2 separate regions of the Homo sapiens genome follow, and region 1 is linked to region 2. The links come from fine-mapping of genetic effects on gene expression. A gene starts in region 2. The other region holds a variant in brackets. All regions are shown on one strand. Distances are between the middles of the regions.

What was found. PIP is the estimated chance that this variant, and not a neighbour inherited with it, causes the effect. A credible set is the group of variants that fine-mapping cannot tell apart.
Region 1: its variant is the best candidate, but not a certain one, in a credible set for the expression of GRHPR in esophagus mucosa (GTEx, PIP 0.56).

The regions. Positions count from the first base shown.
Region 1 is chr9:37,453,546-37,463,431 of GRCh38, reverse strand. The region is part of intron 1 of ZBTB5 (zinc finger and BTB domain containing 5); the gene reads left to right. Among named protein-coding and RNA genes, the nearest start is that of ZBTB5, 7.0 kb to the left of the region's middle. The variant A/G (reference allele first, on the strand shown) is at 4,574.
Region 2 is chr9:37,418,107-37,427,992 of GRCh38, reverse strand. It overlaps GRHPR (glyoxylate and hydroxypyruvate reductase), which reads right to left and starts at 5,297. Exons shown (of 9, transcript NM_012203.2): 1 at 5,160-5,297; 2 at 3,018-3,148; 3 at 1,999-2,071; 4 at 1,339-1,455. The coding sequence starts at 5,242. LOC105376035 (a long non-coding RNA gene) reads right to left here. Exons shown (of 4, transcript XR_007061479.1): 4 at 8,485-9,886. RefSeq lists enhancers at 2,085-3,025, 4,700-5,325, 5,326-5,951 and a silencer at 5,336-5,485.

The DNA of each region.
Region 1 (9,886 bases), 35 kb before region 2:
TTCAACTTTTTTTTTAATGTAAATTAATTTTAAATACTTTCCCCCTCTGTCAGTTTTAAGCGTGTGATTTTTCTTTTACTGTACGTAATATTTCTCAAATATGGATGTTGTCTAGTAGAGCCAGTTTTGTTAGTGTAGCAGGTGGGATGGAATGTAGCACTACACTATGCCTTTTGTCTAAGTATGAAGTGAACTTCTCATCTCCTAAAAGACCAGCTGTTTCTGAGTGAACTATTGCTCTTTGCATATGTTCTCATCATTTTCACCACTGAATAGTAGCTTTTAATTTCAAGATCCAGTTTTAGAGGTGCCTTTCATTTTATTAGTTATACATGTATTTCCTAAAAGCTTTGATTTATCTTGACATCCCAAACAGATTAGGTTACTCTGACAATTCGAAGGGTGAGGAGGGCAGAGAAGAATTTTATTGAGTGATGGAACAGCTCTCAGAGAAGAGGGCATGCAGGGGGTGGTCTCTTTCCCAGTGTGGCTGGTTCCGGGGCTTCTTAGGGACTCAGAATGGGGAGTGTGTGCTGATTGGTTTCTGATGCAAAAAGTTTAAAGGGAAGGCCGGGTGTGGTGGCTCACGCCTGTAATTACTGCAATTGGGGAGGCTGAGGCGGGCAGATTGCCTGAGCTCAGGAGTTCAAGACCAATCTGGCCAACATGGTGAAACCCTGTCTCTACTAAAAATACAAAAATTAACCCGGCATGGTGACGTGCGCCTGTAATCCCAGCTACTCAGGAGGCCGAGGCGGAAGAATCGCTTGAGCCTGGGAGGCAGAAGTTGCATTGAGCTGAGAGCATGCCACTGCACACTTGGAGTCTTGGAGACAGAGTGAGACCCTGTCTCAAAAAAAAAAAAAAAACGGTTAAAGCAAAGACACCACTCAAAGGTGGGCACGACAGTGTAGAAAACCAATTAGGAAAGGGGTAGATATATGTAAAATAGGTGAAGGGTGGGGATCAGTCAGAGGAAAGCATGCCAAATGGGAACACAGGTTCTCAATCTGGTCCGTGGATTTGACTTGTAGCTTGGCTTTCAAGCTTTTAAACTGTCTTCGGCTTGGAGGTGGGGTTTCACTGGGGATGTGCCCCTGTCTGCCTAGGCATTTGTCTGTCTCCTGCCTCTATCATAGTAGTCATTGGCAGACAGTTTTCCTTCCTTGAAGACAGGATACCATAAGTAAGCATTATGCCATAGCTTAATTGGCAGTTTTTTTCCTAGTGTTACATGAAATAATGCATTTTATAATCACAGACATCTTAGATTTAATGAAATTTGGTAAAATTAATAGAATTTTAGCTCAGGTGGCACACACCTGTAGTCCCAACTACTTGGGAGTCTGAGGCAGGAGGATCACTTGAGTTCAAACCAGCCCAGGCAACATAGTAAAATCCTGGCTGCCTATCCCCCATAAAGAGACTTTTGTACCCAACTAATTCCTTGTAATTGTAACCAATAAATTTTCCTAATTCGTTTTCCTGCTCTGGAAAATGTTTGTTACTGAAAAGAAGCCTATCGAGCGTGATATTTTTCCTTATGTAAATGGAAATTAACAAATAAAATGTTCATTTTACAAATTTTAAAGGATGATTAAGTGATAGGTCTACTTTTTGGAAATTATACTTGGTAATCTGTTACTTTGTATGGTAACAGGTTTACAAATGCCTTTATTCCTAATTTACTTTTTTTTTTGAGACAGGGTCTCACTCTGTCACCCAGGCTTGAGTGCAATGGCATAATCTGATCTCGGGTCACTGCAACCTCCGCCTCCTGGGTTCAAATGATTCTTGTGTCTCAGCCTCCTGAGTAGCTGGGACTACAGCTCGTGCCACCATGCCCGACTAATTTTTGTACTTTTTGGTAGAGACAGGGTTTCGCCATGTTGGCCAGGCTGGTCTTGAACTCCTGACCTCAGGTGATCCGACTGCCTTGGCCTCCCAAAGTGCGTGATTACAGGCATGAGAGCCACTGCACCTGGCTGATTGCCATTTTCTTAAGTTTAAAATGTTTAGGGTGAGTTGCTCCCCTTTTTTTCTATGCATGATATTGTTGACATGGTATAATTAATTTTTCAGTACATCTTAGTCAATTATAATTTAAAATCCACTCAACCATCTTCCTCTAAAAATACAAGGCTTTCACCTTTATAGTCCTTATGGTTTAGTCTTTTTTGCGAAGAGGATTTGAGGAAGGAAGACCAGGAAAACAAAATCCAGTGTTTGGGCATTTGGTTGTGGGAGGAGCCCAGAAATGCTACAAAAATCTAAACACATTTAAGTTACTTAGATTGTACTTATTTTGAATAGATGATCAAAAGCAACTCTGCAGGTCAAGTGAAGGTCACTTGCTGAGCATTATTGATTTGATAAATGATTGAGAAGTGAAGGCATATACTGCTTTGAAAGTAAACTAGGTGTAAGAAATGGATTAAGTCCATGTTCATCTTCTCTGTTGGAAAGGCACCATAATAATAGTGTCTCCAAAGCTTTGTCATAGTTTTCATCTTGATAAAAGTTTAGTTTTTTTTTTTCTTTCTACTTTGTTCTGTTTTGCTTTTGAGATAGGGTCTTGCTCTGTCACCTGGGCTGGAGTGTAGTGGGATGGTCATAACTCACTGCAGCCCCAAACTCCTGGGCTCAAGCAACCCTCCCCCACCCAGCCTCCCAAGTAGCTGGGACTACAGGCATGCACCACCACGCCCAGCTAATTTTTGTATTTTTTGTGGAGGTGGGGGTCTCCCTATGTTTTCCAGGCTGGTCTTAGACTCCTGGACTCAAGCATTTCTCCCACCTTGGCCTCCCAACATGTTGAGATTATAGGCGTGAGCCACCATGCCCAGCACCCAGCTAATTAAAAAAAAATTTTTTTGTAGAGAAAAGGTTTTGCTATGTTAACCAAGCAGGTCTCAAATGAGCCTCCCGCTTCAGCCTCCCAAAGTACTGGGATTACAGGTGTGAGCCCCGCATCTGGCCTAATTTTTTTGGGGGGGGAGTGTTCACTCTTATTGCCCAGGCTGGATCCAGCGCAATGGCGCGATCTTGGCTCACTGCAACCTCCACCTCCCGGGTTCAAGCGATTCTCCTGCCTCAGCCCCCGAGTAGCTGGGATTACAGGCATGCACCACCATGCCCGGCTAATTTTTTATTTTTGGCAGAGACAGGGTTTCTCCATGTTGGTCAGGCTAGTTTCGAACTTCCGACCTCAGTTGATCCACCCGCCTCGGCCTCCCAAAGTGCTGGGATTACAGGCGTGAGCCACTGTGCCTAGCTGGACTAATTTTTTTCATTAAGAAAGAAGTTTCTTGGCCAGGCCCAGCATTTTGGGAGGCTGAGGTAGGCAGATCACAAGGTCAGTAGCTTGAGACTAGCCTGGCTAATATGATGAAACCCAGTCTTTACTAAAAATTAAAAAAAATGGCCTGGCGCAGTGGCTCACGCCTGTAATCCCAGCACTTTGGGAGGCCGAGACGGACAGATCATGAGGTCAGGAGATCGAGACCATCCTGACTAACAAGGTGAAACCCCGTCTCTACTAAAAATACAAAAAATTAGCCAGGTGTGGTGGCGGGCGCCCGTAGTCCCAGCTACTTGGGAGGCTAAGGCAGGAGAATGGCATGAACCCGGGAGGCAGAGCTTGCAGTGAGCCGAGATCGCACCACTGCACTCCAGCCTGGGCAACAGAGCAAGACTCATTTCAAAAAAAAAAAAAAAAATTAGCTGGGCATGGTGGTGCACGCCTGTAATCCCAGCTATTCGGGAGGCTGAGGCAGGAGGATTGCTTGAACTGGAGGTTGCAGTGAGCTGAGATTGTGCCACTGCACTCCAGCCTGGGTAACAGAGTGAGACTCTGCCTGAAAAAAAAAAAAAAGTTTCTTGATCTGTCAGGGGTAAAAGACATGTTTAAAAGTTGTTTATGCTACACATCAGTTGGGATTGGAAAGAAAAGAAAACTTTTTTTTTTTTTTGAGATAGAGTTTTGCTCTTGTTGCCCAGACTGGAGTACAGTGGTGCGATCTTGGCTCACTGCAACCTCTGCCTCCCAGGTTCAAGCGATTCTTCTGCCTCAGCCTCCCGAGTAGCTGGGATTACAGGCATGTGTCACCACGCCCCACCAATTTTTTGTATTTTTAGTAGAGACGGCTTTTCTCCATGTTGGTCAGGCTGGTCTCAAACTCCTGACCTCAGGTGATCCACCTGCCTTGGCCTCCCAAAGTGCTGGGAGTACAGGCTGAGAAGCAGGGGCTGGCATGCCCATGCCCTGTTTTACATTTTTTGTAAATCTCTTTAATATGTAGTTTAATAGAAGACAGCTGGATTCCATTAAATGCTTCTGCATTCATTTTGCCGTGATACACTATTTTGATTAAAATATACCAAAAAACTCCAGCATCACACAAATATGTAGTTGGAAAGGGAGGATTATTTCAGTAGATTTTTCAGATAATTTTGGATATTCTTACTCTGATACTGTACCAAAACTCCACAAGTGGTATTTTCTTAAGTGATTAGTGCAATGTGGAATCTGAAATTATGTCAATGAACTTTTCATATTCTGTTGCATTAAAAT[A/G]CATTAGCTTATGTTTTGTACCTTGAATGAATTTTTACCCATACCTTGTTTTATAGCATTATTGTTACATGGCTACATGGTCATTTGGAAAATACTGATTTCAGAGTTATGCAGATCTTCCAAACGTTGACTCATTTATTATACAATGTAAAAAAATCACATTTCATTAATATCACCAATGATCTGTCAGAAGAATTTGAGCATGTGGGAAGCTGTCAAGCTCACAGTGACAGATACAAGTTTTCCAAAATACTAATTTTCACCTGAATTCTCAAACTTTTTTATTGGCAATAAGTAGTACTAAGTTATCTTATTTAAAATAACAGGCTTGTTTCATTCATTTTTTCATTCATTTTCAAGAAAATGGTAAATACTTCTAAATAACCATAGTTTGTCATTCGTTCTTTCAAGTAAAAATAGTGTCCCATGAGAAAAGCAATTAGTTGAGCCACCTCAAAAACTGCACAAGTGCTTTTTCTTGAGGCAACTTGTATTTCAGAATGCAGGAGGAAAACTTCAGGTGTACTTCCCATTTTATCACACATATTGAAAACAGGTACTCAAGAGTTGAGACTTAATAACAGATGTAGGGAAGGGGAGGCTGGGTCTCCATTGGAGTGAGCATTTGGTTAGTAGTAGCTGTGTTCAGCACAGATGTTTGGCATTCTGACCTGATTGTTCCTGCTGCCTAGCTTAATTTCTTCCCAGTTCAATCTTACGTATCCAGCCTTCCCATCAATTCCATGATCAAACTAATAGCCTTTCAGTAAATTACTTTTATGTTTAGGATCAATTTTTGTTGCTGCAACCAATGACTCTGGCTGATGTGCTGCTTAAACTTAAGAAAAAAACCCTAAAATACTTTTTAAGAAAGTAATCTCAAAAGTGATGATAGCCTTTAGTTCAAAAGTATGTGCCTCATGGTTAACCTTTCTGATGACTTGTAATTATTAACATCAGTTATGAGCAGTCACTATCCAATACCTACCTTTCTAGCCATACTATTTTCCAGCCAAATCGAATACATTGCTTTACCCACCTCAACCCCTTCTCCACCTTTACCTCTGTCTAGGGGTTTGTCCAAATCCAACCAAGACCTAGCTCTGTTGTCAACGCTACCATGAAGCTAGAAATAACCTTTGCCTTCTCCAAACCATTGAGAGGTTCTTTCACCTCTTATGTGGCACTTAGTGCCTTCCACTTTGTAATATCGTTATTCATGTATATCTTATTTCCACTAAATACCTGTGACAGTTAGTACTGTCCCATACAAATCTATGCTCCACAGCGCTTAACCTTGAACAAGTAAGCACTTTAAAACATTAGATGATGCTGGCATGGTGGCTCACACTTGTAATCTCAGCACTTTGGGAGGCCAAGGTAGGAGGAATACCTGAGCCCAGGAGTTCGAGACCAGCCAGAGCAACATAGTGAGACCCGTCTCTACAAAGAATAAAAAATTAGCTGGGCATGGTGACGTGCCTGTAGTACCAGTATTTGGGAGGCTGTGGTGGGAGAGTCACTTGAGCTAGGGAAGTGGAGGCTACAGTGAGCTGTGATTGCACCACCACACTCCAGCCTGGGTGGCAAAGCAAGACTCTGTCTCAAAAACAAAACAAAACAAAAAACATATTACATGAATGAACTTGTATACAAAAAATACACAAGTACCTTTATGGGCTGTTGAGGTCCCTTGAGCTGTATACTACCTAGCTCCAAGCTGCTGGGCCTCTTTTCCCCCTTAGTGGGTCAGCTGTCTCTTTCTGCAGCTATCAGCTTAACTTCATTTAAGCAGCCACTCCTTGCTCTCATTCTGGAGTTGCTGCTTCAGTTAGTTAGGGAACTAGAAAAACTTGAATTTTGTTTCGAACAAAAGACTGTGTGAGGGCTTAAGGGACTTTCCTATGAGAAAATCTTTCATCCATAGTCTTTGATCTTTATTTTGGATATTCTGAGACTTTTTCTTCTGGTTTTTGGCTGATTTTAGAGATAGTTGTGATTCTCAGAAAAGTGATTTTTGGGTAATACATTATACTTCATCCATATATAGCAAAAGTTTATTCAGCAAATAATTTACTGAGTATTTTATGTCAGGCACTTTGAGAGAGAGAAAATACAGTTCCTGCCCTCAATAAGCTGTTTTAGTAGAAAAAGCATTTGAGCTTGTACTAGGAACCTAAGTAGGGCACTAATACCTTTTCTTATTCAAACTGAGTTACAGAGCTCTAGGTCAATTCATCCCTAGGGATTTTGGCCTGGAAAACAAGGTGGCAATGTGGAGAGAATTGGAGAGTTAGGTGAGATGGTCAGGGCTTCCAGCTCGCCTTCCTCAGTCATGCTCATCTTTAGTCACTAGTGGAATTTTCCTGTTTTATAGAACTAATCTGTTCAGTTTCTGAGCCAACCCTGACAGAGCAGAACCAGAGATATTATGACATTAGTCATGCTGACAGGTCTGGTTTCTTGGGGTTAACCCAGGCATCATTGTGCCCACCTAGTTCCAGCCTTCCCCTACTCCCACTTTGCTGGTCAAATTAGAACAATGGATGGATGTTCCAGTACTCCGCTCTGTCTGACTTGGAGCCCTGTCAAAATTCCTAGCCTGGGCCAGGTGGGTGGGTGGCTCACGGCTGTAATCCCAGCACTTTGGGAGGCTGAGGCAGGTGGATTGATTGAGCCCAGGAGTTTGAAACCAGCCTGGGCAACATGGCAAAACCCCCTATCTACAAAAAATACAAAAATTAGCCAGGCATGGTGACACGCACCTGTAGTCCCAGCTACCCAGGAGGCTGAGGTGGGAGGATCACCTTGAGCCTGGGAGGTCAAGGCTGCAGTGAACCGTGATCAGGCCACTGTACTCCAGCCTGAGTGAGAGAGTGAGATCCTGCCTCAAAAAAAGAAAAAAAAAAAAATCCTAGCCTGCACTTCCGGAGCCTGTGGTAGGAGGATTGCTTGAGCGCTGGAGTTCAAAAGCAGCCTGGGCATATTGAGACCCCACCTGTATTTAAAAAAAAAAAATCCTAGCCTACTTGAGTGGGTCCTTGCTTTGTTCTGCTCTCTGACTTTTGTTTTCATCTATATCGTCTCTACAAGTGGAGGAAATGTTCTGTCTAGTTATTTTTCTGCTGATGAAATGGGAGAGTTCTCTGAACCCCCCTCGCAGGACGTGTGACAATGATGTGGCTCGTCTGTTTGGCTGCCACCACTGCTAAAACCCTTTACAGGAGGAGGAGCACAGAGACAGGCAGGGGCAGGAGCTGGGGCAAGCTCTTTTAGGCTCTGGCCCCACGGTGGCATCTAGGGGTGGGTGCCTGCAGCTCCCGAAGCCCCATTGGGCATGCTACAGTGCTCTTTTAGCTTGCCATATGCAGATGGGTTAAGTGTTAACCAGCTCAGTACCTTCTTGGTATTTGGGTTCTTGTCCAGCATCCAGGAAGAATTGGGTCACACATGGACTTGAAGGATGGTGTATTCGGGATTTTATTGGATGATGGAGGTGGCTCTCAGTGGGATGGATGGGGAGCTGGAAAGGGGATGGAGTGGGAAGATGATCTTCCCCTGGAGTTCGGCTGTCCTGTGGCCGATCTCTCTGACCATCCCCAGCTGAATGGCTCTTGACATTCAGATGCTCCTTCTCTTCTCTCCTTGGCCACGCTGCTCTTATGCTCCTCTGCACATTCTGTTTGTCTGCTCATCTGCCTGTGGAACCTGGGGTTTGGGGTTTATATGTGTACAGGATAGCATGGTGTGGCAGGCCAAAAGGCAACATTTGGGTGCAAAAACAGGGATGCCTGTTCCCATTTAGGGCCACAGGTTTCCAGGCTTGAGGGTGGGGCCTTAGCTGGGGTACTGCCTTCTTCTACCCAGCATTTCCCTGTCTCCTGTCCATATCACTAGGGTTTTTGTTTTTGCTGAGCCCACACAGAAGTAGGATCTGCTAGGGTTTTATCTAGATTGGGCTACTGAATGTTAAGGATTCCTTAGAATGTTAATTTGCTTTCTGCAGGTGACAACTGTGTGGATCCTGCCTGGCAGGCAAGCAGCAAATTACTTGATATGGTAGTAGATGATGTTTGAGTATGGGTGCGGTTTTTGTTATGAATGAAGTATATTATTGAGAAGCATGTGGGTATATCAGTGTATAAATTAAATAGTTTAAAATGTGCTGGCTTGTTCTCCGAAGACAGAAAGGAACTTTATTAGCCTAAGTAAAGCATTATTAGAAAAGTAAATCTATTGAGAAAAGTCATCTTTTGATTATTCATGTTAATGTAATGGACAGTAATGAGAGTGTATTTTCTTAATTATATTTAGTTTTGAAATTCCTAAATATTTGTTCCTGCAGATAACAAATACTGAACTTTACACTTGCTTTGGGTTAGACACAGTTATACATCAGTAGATTGCTTGCCACACTCTCCTCCAGCTATGTTGACTCATATTGTCACATTTTGGAGCCTTTTAAAGAGACCTGAAGCCTTTTTCCTTGGTTAGAAGGCTTCAGACAGGCAGCTTTGGGTAAAACTCTTAATTTACTCAGCCTGAGCTCTGTTAAGGCTTTTAGACTGGCCTTCTGACTTTGCTAGAATTACTTGAGAGTTCTGAGTAAGAATGATCTTGATTCATGATTCCCTTCCATCAGAGCAGATAATAGCAAATTTTATATCCCCCAAATGAACTGAATTTTTAAAATATTCCCTCTAGATCCAAAAAAGTTCTAAAGGTTTTGAGATAGCTGTATTATATAGGTTTTCCTGGGAGATGTAATTTGAACTTCATGTTTGACTGTGTGGCAGAGATCCAACACAAACCAGGTTAAGGTAAAAGGGGAGTTCACTGGCTCATGAAACAAGTCCTAGGGTGGTGCCAACTTTAGTCATACCTGGATTCCAGAGTCTTGATACCTTCTGGACAGTGTTTTTGGTATCACTCTCTTCTGTGTTGGCTTCGTTCTCAAACAGGCAAAAATGGTCACTCTCAGTGCTGGATTTATAACTCCCTCACAGTTTGTAATCTGGGTTGAGATAGTCTCTTTCTTGATATACCAGCAAAAGCCCACAGGCAGACTCCATTGGCAGAACTTGGGTCACATACCCAAGTGATTGTCTGAAACAATCACTGTAATCAAGGAGAGTGGGTACCAAGTTGACTGGGTCTCCCTGGATCCTCCGTCTCCTGGTAAACTCAGGTGTTTGGGGCAGTTCGATCTGTACTACATGGACTCATGGACTAAGAATGGGTGGGAAGTGATTTTCTCCAATGACATAGAGGGACCCCCTCTCCCCGAAAAGGTGGAGATAGTATTTGAATGTT
Region 2 (9,886 bases):
GCACTGTCTACTCTGCTCCATGCCCCGTGCCGGGGCCCACGCTGCTGGCCACGCACTGTGAGAGCCTGCGTTTGCACGCCTCCCACCTTGACTCGGGCCAGTCCCTCCATCTGCACATGGAATGCTTCCCCCAACTTTTTTTTTTTTTTTTTTTGGAGACAGGGTCTTGCTGTGTCGCCCAGACTGGAGTACAGTGACATGATCTCGGTTCACTGCAGCCTCTGCCTCCTGGGTTCAAGCAATCCTCCCACCTCAGCCTCCCGAGTAGTTGGGACTACAGGCGTGTAACACCACGCCTGCCTAATTTTTGTATTTTTTGTAGAGACAGACTTTTGCCACATTGCCCAAGCTGTTCTCCAACTCCTGAGGCTCAAACAATCTGCCCGCCTCGGCCTCCCAAAGTGCTGGGATTACAGGTGTGAGCCACCGTGCCCGGCCAACTCTAACTCTTGATATACAGGCCGAAATCCCTGATCTGAAACCTTCAGGCTAGATTTTAAAACTGTTTGGCCTTTAGAAAGGCAGCATGGCGCACGTGGTAGATTCCACACATCACCCTCTGCAGTGTCTGGGCAGCAGCCTGTTTTAAAAGTGTTACATCTGCAGCAAAACTTAGGAAAGTCACATTAAATGGGAGAAATAAAAGCCTTAAATAGTCTCCTGTTAGTATGAAAGAACTTTCAGCTGTCCGAGCTTTTTAGATTTTGGGATCTAAGGGATGGTGGACCTGCAGCTTTCAGGACTCAAGCGGACGCCCACCTGCTACTTATTCTGTGAAGCCCTCCCTGATCCACACTCTCCCTGCCAGCCCTCACCCACCAGCAGAACTTGTTTGTCCTCCCTCATCCTCTTCTCTCACCACTTCCCTTTCTGCCCTTATTGCAGCTCTGCTTTGTGCTTTATTTTAGCTGAGTCCTCACTCAATGGGGCACACCTGGGGTCAGGGACTATGCGTGGGCTGGACTGGCACAGTGATCAGGATCCAGTGCTGAGCAGAGCCAACGTTCCTGCCAGGCGTTCACTTATTTTTCTTTTTTTTTTTGAGACAGAGTCTCACACCGTCACCTGGGCTGGAGTGCAATGGTGTGATCTCAGCTCACTGCAACCTCTGTCTCCTGGGTTCACATGATTCTCCTGCCTCAGCCTCCCAAGTAGCTGGGATTACAGGGACCCACCACCACACCCAGCTAATTTTTTTTGTATTTTTACTAGAGACGGGGTTTCACTATGTTGGCCAGACTGGTCTCGAACTCCTAACCTCATGATCCGCTCACTTTGGCCTCCCAAAGTGCTGGGATTACAGCCGTGAGCCACCGCACCTGGTCTGCGTTCACTTACTTCTTCACTTCCTCGATGGCCTCCGGCAACCGGCGGCAGGTGGTAAGTAGCAGGGAGACTGCGAGTTCGGCGGTGGTATCTGTCAGGACATCTGGGGTGTAGCCAACTCGGATCCCACTACGAATCAGACATCTGGTGGTAACATCAGCCTCAACCATATTTACCAATGTCTACTGCTGGGACATTTCCATGGAGTTACTTTGCTCCCTCTTTGATCTGCCTGCCAGGAAGCTCAGAACTATAAATGAGCACTCAAAAACGGGCAGTCCTCATTCCTATTTAGATTATCTCCCACTTTGGAAGGATATGAAGATGGAAGATCAGGGTTCAGGGACTGAACAAGTAACTTAACCTTTCTGAATTTCCTCATCTGAAACAGAAAGAATAACACCTGCCTTTGCTACTTCAAGGTATTGTTGTGGGGATCAAAAAAGATAATGAATGTGAAAGGGTGCCACCTACACAGAAGTTACCCACTGTTTCTGACTGCTGGGGTTTATTGTAACTGACCTGTGCACATGTGGACAGATTCTATCATCAGCCACCTCACATTCTCCCTGAATGGCCGAGGGATATGCAGTAAAAACAAATCAACAGCTCTTCTTTCTCTCATAGCCACCCCTCTCTCTAGGCCCCCTCCAGATCCCAAGCTGCAGTTACCGCTTCTTGATTTCATCCAAAGCCAAGTGGTCGATGCCCACAGACATGGTGCTGATGACTTTGAGATTGGCCCCTGTTGTGCAGAAAGTGCATTGTTAGTATCTTTCCTCGAGGAACTCAAAGCCACAGCACTGGGGACTATCATGGGGACACCGCTTATTATTGTTTTCTTAGAATAAGAGGCTGACATCTCTGTTCTTCAGTTAAAACTCTGAATAATCCCCTTTGACAGCCTCAGACACTGCAGTTCAGGGAGGTTAAGTGGCCTGGCTCAGTCACAGGCAGAGCCGGGTTCACCTCAGGGCCTCTGCCACCAAGGCCCCGCTCTTACCCACTGGACTGTCCACCCAGCGAGGCCTCCGGTCTTCTTTAGCCACGCTGGGGCCTCCCCCATGGACACCTCTGAGAGTGCCAAGAAGGTGGCTGGGACGTGACCCTCTCTACCCTCTCCTGCAAGCAGGACACCACAAAGCTTCCAGGCCAAGGCCAGGATGTGGGGCGGCTCAGCACTGACTCACAAGGGTCCCTTCCCATCTGGCAGCCTCTGAGTCTGAACCTTTTCTCAAAACTGTCACAACAGCCTCACAGGGGGAGGTTTATTCTTCCATGGGCTGAGACCCGTGGCTGCGGTTGAGGAAAGACATCCTGCTGGGGCTTGGCACTGAGCTAGGTCCTCCCTCATACTACGCACACGCCCAGAAGGGGCAGGGTCTTGCTGGAGGTCACAGAGCAAGGTTGTGGCAGGGCTGGAGAACCCAGGGCCTTGGATGCACTTCCCCACACCCACAGTCTCCACACCGCGGTCTTTGCCCTCCTAGGGTCCCCCGCCAAGGGGTTCACAGCAGGAGGGAGGGGCAGTGCCTGTGCCAGAGCAAGCTATCTGCCCGCTCGGGCCTGGTATCGCAGGAAACGCCCTCAGAACCCAGACAGCACTGCAGAGCAGCCAGGAGCCAGCAGCACAGGCTGAGGGGCCCACAGGGCCAAGCCACCCTCAAGTCCCCTGCCCACCCAGTGTGCACCTGCAGCATCCAGGATCCTCTTGTCCACGTGGTCGGAGAGGAGGCAGAGCAGGCCGTGGGCCCCCGCCACACCTCGCTCTAGCTCCTTGGCAGGGATGGGCTCATCCGAGTCCCACTGCTCCACCTCACAGCTGCGGGGAAAGGGAGGCCCTCAGGAGAAGCAGGAGCCGCACACCTGTCCCCGCCCCTCCCAGCTGGGAATCCTGGCCTCTGATGGCCCTGGCCTCAGGCTGCCCGGGGCTGGCTGAGGGGAGGCAGGGTCAGGCAGGGGTGGTCTCAGAACTGTCCCGAGACAGCAGGTGACAGGTGAAGGGCTGAGGGGCCCCCCAGCAGAGCCTAAGCTGCAAGGGGGAAGGCATGGGGACAGCTCTCAGGTCAGCACAGAGAAGAGCTTTCCCACATTCACAGGGGCTGGGCGGCCAAGCAGGCGGCCAACTGCAGGGAAGGCCCGTGGGGGGCAGGGTGTGCCTCAGGTGGGGGGCCTGGATTCAATGGCCTGTTGCATCTCTTCCTGTCCGTGGAGTCCATGAAATAGAAAACTCTCATAGTTGGACTGGGCCAGGAAAGATAAGGTCAAGGCCACCCAACGCTTCCACGGCAGCTCACAGCAACCAGATATTTGTCCCAGTGATGCACGGTGCCTCCTGGCCCTTGCCATGGAATTCAGTACAGTCAGCACGTGTGGAGCCTCTATGTGGCAGGACACAGGATAGCTACTTGCACCTCCTGACTGAGCCCAGGGCACTGACCACCTTTCATCCACCTCCCCATGAGCAGGGTACAGCGTGAGCTACTGTTACCATGGGCGCGGTTGCTGCCTTCCACCTTCTCCTGCTCAGTACAAAGTGGGTCCTTGGCAAAGGTTTTGTTGCAGTGAACAAAATTTGAAAATCTCATATGCCCCTAGAACTGGCTGCTGAGGCTGGATTGCATCCTCTTCCTATCTAACATTGGAAACACAAACCTGATCAAATGCAGTGATCAGACAGCAGTCAGACACTTCTGAGTACAAGCCCCAGCTCCTCCACCTGGGAGCTGCATGGCTTTGGGAAGAAACTTAACCCTAAGTCCAGCCTCCAGTTTTTAATCTGTGCAATGGGAATTATAATACTGACTTCACAGTGCTACCAGGATTAAAAGTTTATGTATATGAAGCACCTGGCAAGGTTGGCCCACAAAAAGGGTTCCATTTAGCAAGGGTGGGCCAGGTGCAGTGGTTCATGCCTGTAATCCCAGCACTTTGGGAGGCTGAGGTGGGAGGATCCCTTCGTACAGGAGTTCAGGACCAGCCTGGGCAACACAGTGAGACCCTCGTCTTTGAAAAAAATAAAAAATTAGCCAGGCATGGTAGTGCATGCCTGTAGTAGTCCCAGCTACTTGGGAGGCTGAGGTGGAAGTATCTCTTGAGTCCAGGAGGTTGAGGCTGCAGTGAGGTATAATGGTGCCACTGCACTCCAGCCTGGATGAGAGTGAGACCCTGTCTTAAAAATTAAAGGGTCCTCAGGCCAGTCATGGTGACTAACACCTGTAATCCCAACACTTTGGGAGGCTGAGGCAAGAGGATTGCTTGAGCCCAGGAATTTGAGACCAGCCTGAGCAACAGAGTGAGACCCCCATCTCTACAAAAAAAAAATCAGAAAATTAGCCGGTAGTGATTGTTTGCGCCTGTAGTCCCAGCTACTCGGGAGGCTCAGGTGGGAGAACTGATTGGGCCCAAGAAGTCGAGGCTGCAGTAAGCCACGATCGATCGAGCCACTGCACTCCAGCCTGTGCAGCAGAGTGAGACTGTCTCAAAAAAAAAAAAAAAAAGATAAGTAAATATAAAGAAGAAGAGTCATCAAAGCCCCCTGCCAAACGTCCAAGGGCCTGGTCAGTGACCGCCATGTCCCTGACCCCACATGTCCTGTGGGAGCGTGGAGAATTAGCCTGGACCTTGCCTCAGGGGCAATCTCCCCTCTCCAAAGCCGGAACTGCAGGTCCCAGCGTCGTCTTAAGAGGAGAACTGGGCCCCAGAGAACTTTCTCCGAGACTCCCCAAAACTCCAAGCCTGCCCCAGCCGGCCACAAGGCCCAAACGCCCCGCCCGGCTCTCCGGTCCCTGGGACCGCCCTGCTCCCTCCTCCACGGCGCGCGAGGCTCTTACTCTGCCGCCCGGGCGAGCGCGACCCTACCCTCGGCGGGTATCCTGCGGGTGACGAACACCTTCATGAGTCGCACCGGTCTCATCCGCAGTGCAGCCGCCGACCCGGACCTGGCAGTACAGAAGCTGGCCCGGGAATGTAGCTGGGCCGGGGCGGGGCCAGGCTGGAGTGGGCGGGAGAGACGTCGCGCGCGGCGTGCGCAGGGGGTGTGGCTTCGCGAGAGGGAGCGCCGGGTTGCGGCTGAGCGGTGACTGTGCGTGCTCGGGGAGTGACAGTAACAGTGACCCTACACAGTGTCCTTGTGTGTGTGTGGGGGGGTGCGCCTCGTGCCACTGGGGAATCAGGGCCCCGGGGGAGAGGGGGCAGTATCCCGTCCAAGGCCTCATGGGAGCCCTGCTTTTTCTACACGCTCAGGGTCCTGTTTCCACAGGCTCAGGCCTTAAGAGACTGAAAGCCCCCACTTTTTCTGTCTCTTGGGTTGGCCCAGGGTAGAAACCCAGGTTCCAGGCTGTGAGGAAGTCCAGGACACACAGAGAGGTCACGTGTAGGTGTTCAGGCCAACAGCACAGCCAGGGGCCCGGCTCACAGCCACCGTCAATGACCAGAGGTATGAGTGAGGAAGCCTTCGGGTGACTCCAGGCCAACTCCCACCTGACTACAGCTAAAACTGCAAGAAAGAGCCTTTAGGAGAATCACTGGCTGAGCCCAGTCAACCCCGGAACCATAAGAGATGATAATGCACTGACTGCTGTTGCTCTAAGCCGTTCAATTTTGGAGTAATTCTTTATGCAGCAATAAATAAGTGATACGCTATGTGTGCGAAAGCCAGAAGCCATAAGAGTACAACTAATTCTCCATTGAAAAATTAACCGTACCATCCTGAATGCATCTGATCTTGGAAACTAAGCCTGGTTAGGGCTTGTATGGGAGACTGCCTGGAAATACCAGGTGCCTGGAAATACCAGGCTTATGTTTATCTTAAAAAAAAAAAATTAACAAAATCATAAGACAACAAACCGGGAAAAATACCATATATTTGCAACTCATTTTATAGACAAGGGGTTGATTTACTTATTGCACAAATAGTTCCTAAGACAAAGATGCCCAGCTTATCTGAATAAGCAAAGGATATCAATGGACAGTTTATAGAAAAGAAAATGGCCTTTAAATGTATGGCTGGGCGCGGTGGCTCATGCCTGTAATCCCAGCACTTTCGGAGGCCGAGGCAGGCGGATCACTTGAGGTCAGAAGTTTGAGACCAGCCTGGCCAACATGGTGAAACTCTGTCTGTACTGAATATACAAACATTAGGTGGGCATGGTGGCACATGCCTGTAATTCCAGCTACTCAGGAGGCTGAGGCAGGAGAATTGCTCATGAGTCCAGGAGATGGAGGTTGCAGTGAGCCGAGATCCCATCACTACACTCCAGCCTGGGTGACAGAGTGAGACTCCATCTAAAACAAAAAAAAACAAAACAAACAAAAAAAAAAAACAAAAGATGAAAAGTGCTCAACTTGACTCACAAAAGAACTGCATATTAAAATTACAGCAAGATACCAATGTAAAAAATAATACATTGGGGAACCAGGTGCTTTCATACGTTGCTGGTAGGAGTGTAAATCAGCAACTTCAATAAGAAAGTTTGGCAGTAGCTATCAAAGTTTAGACTGCACATCTTTTTTGACCCAGAAATTTTGCTTTTAGGAATTTACCTTACAGACGCGTTCACACATGTGCAAAATGCCATCTGCCAAAGGCTCTTCATTGTGGCATTGTTGGAATAGTAAAATATGGGAAACAACCTAAAGGTCCACTCATAGGGGACTGTTCATTACGTATGCTTCATTCCCACAGTGAAATACTCTGCATCAATCAAAAGAGTGAGGCAGCTCTGTGCGTACCAGTGTGGAATGATCTCCAAGATGTACTGTCCAGTGAGAAAACAGGGTGATGCAAAGTGCATATGTTACCATTTATAGGAGAAAGTATATGCCTATTCTTTTTTTTTTTTTTTTTTTTTTTTTTTTGAGACAGGATCTCAGTCTGTTATCTAGGCTGGAGGGCAATGGTGCAATCTTGGCTCACTGCAACCTCTACCTCCTGTGCTCCAATGATCCTCCCGCCTCAGCCTCCTGAGCAGCTGGGACCACAGGCATGTGCCACCACACCCAGCTAATGTTTTGTATTTTTTGTAGAGACAGGGTTTCATTATGTTGACCGGGCTTGTCTCGAACACCTGGGCTCAAAGCGATCCACTTCCAAAGTTCTGGGATTACAGGCGTGAGCCACGACACCTGGCCACCTATTTCTGTGTGTTAAATATCCCTGGAAAGATGTACAAGAAACATCTTTCTTGTTTCTTTGGGAACAGGCCAGGTGCAGTGGCTCATGGTTTGTAATTCCAGCACTTTGGGAGGCTGAGTCAGGAGCATTGCTTGAGCCCAGGAGTTTGAGACAAGCCTGGGCAACATAGCGAGACCCTGTCTCTACAAAAAAAAATTTTTTTTTAATTACCCAGGCGTAGTGGTGTACACCTGTAGTCCCAGTTACTTGGGAAACTGAAGTAGGAAGATTGCTTGAGCCTGGGAGGCTGGGGCTGCAGTGAACTGTGATTGTGCCACTGCACTCCAGCCTGGGCAACAGAGTGAGTGAGACCCTGTCTCTAACAAAAAAAAAAAAAAAAAAAGAAAAAGAAAAAAGAAGAAACTGGGGACAGTGGCTGCCTCTGGGGAGAAGACCTGGTGAACTGGGACAGAGTAAGAGAGACACAATTTTCACCCTTTGGGAATTTGCATCTTGTGCATTTATTATCTACCCTCAAAATAAAGAAAACATTCATTTAAAAATAGCACTTGGCCAGGCGCGGTGGCTCACGCCTGTAATCCCAGCACTTTGGGAGGCTGAGGCGGGTGGATCACCTGAGCTTAGGAGTTCGAGACCAGCCTGGCCAACATGGTAAAGCCCCGTCTCTACTAAAAATACAAAAAAATTAGCCAGGCTTGGTGGCAGGTGCCCATAATCCAAACTACTCAGGAGGCTGAGGCAGGAAATTGCTTGAACCCAGGGGGTGGAGGTTGCAGTGAGCCAAGATCACGCCACTTTACTCCAGCCTGGGCGACAGAGCGAGACTCTGTCTCAAAAGAAAACAAAAGACAAACAAACAAAAAAACTCCGTCTCAAAAATAAATAAATAAAATAAAATAAATAAAAATAGCATTTGGCCAGGTTTGGTGGCTGATTCCTGTAATCCCAGCACTTTGGGAGGCTAAAGCTGGAGGACTGCTTGAGGTCAGGAGTTCAAGACCAGCATGGGCAATATAGGGAGGCTCCCCCACCCTGTCTTTACAGAAAAATTTAAAAGTTAGCTGGTTGTGGTGGCTGAGTCCCGGAAGGCGGAGGCCGGAGTATCACTTCAGCCCAGGAGTTCAAGGTTACAGTAAGCTATGATTGCACCCCTGCACTCCAGCCTGGGCAACAGAGTAAGACTCTGTCTCAATAATAATAATAGTAATAGTCTCTAAAACACTTCTTTTCTTGCTGTCATTTTGAATCCTTGCACACTAAATATCAATTCCCCTGCCTTAGCTGTGGCCTTGCCCCTTCATCGCTCAGGTGTCTCCCAGGCTGCGCTTCTACGCTGATGACTCTGGAGTGAGCAGCTCCAGCCCCCATCACCCAGCTTCAGAGCCATAAGCCGCCTCTCTCCTGCCTCCTCCACCTGAGCATCCTCAGGTATCTGGAACTCAACACCTGCCAAACCCAATTCATCCACCTTCTCCCCAATACCTCACCTGACACCTGCGCTCCTCCCACATATCCATCAAAGGGACAGCCACCCCAAGCCAATACCTAGAAGTCACCCCTCACTCATGTATTTCACCCCTCCCACTCCACAGGCTTGTATTGTGGTTGAGAGCTTGGGTCTGGAGCCAGGGTGCTGGGTGTGAATCCAAGCTCGGCCTCTTGGTAATGGTGTGACTTAAGCAAATGACTTCATCTTTCTTGCCTGCAGCTTCCTGTCTGTAGACTGGGGAGAGCAACATATGCACCCCACAGATACTGAAACATGGAAACGTTAGTGAGTGACCATGTCCAGTGCTCAGGGCAGTGTCTGGAACTAACTAAGAGCTCCCGAAATGCCAGCTACTTATTATGATGACTGGTTTTACCCAATGAAGCCCAGGTCAGGCCTCCTCTGCTTAGCAGATCCCTCTTCCTGTGCCCTCAGCTGGCTCTGTTCCTACCACCCAGTAGCACTTATTGAGCCCCAGCTGTGTGCATTGCTTTGGGGGAGGGGACCCATTAACCTTCCGTGTCCCCTCCTGGCCCTGGTGGACAGGTTTCTCCCATGCCCAATGCCCTTGTTTGTACTTGTGTGTAGGAGGAGCTGGGCTCAGGATTAACAGAGAACACTCACTGGTTAACAGAGGCCGAAGGGCCTGGCCTGGGGACAGAAAAACACCTCTTTTTGTCAATGTTTGATGTGTTTCAGAAATGTTCCCTGGCCTGGGAACACAGATAATGGCCTGAGGGTAAGACACTTATTAATGTGTTACTTAAGAGAGGGAGGTAGCAGGGTGGAGCTGTGGCCGGGATCCAGGTGGCCCAGGGACTTGCTGTGTGATCTTCAGCGGGTGATGTCACCTCTCTGTGAATATCATACCAGTTCCCTCATTTGGGCCCTCATGGGGCAGAATGTATTCAGATCAAATCAGTGGAGAAGAGGTC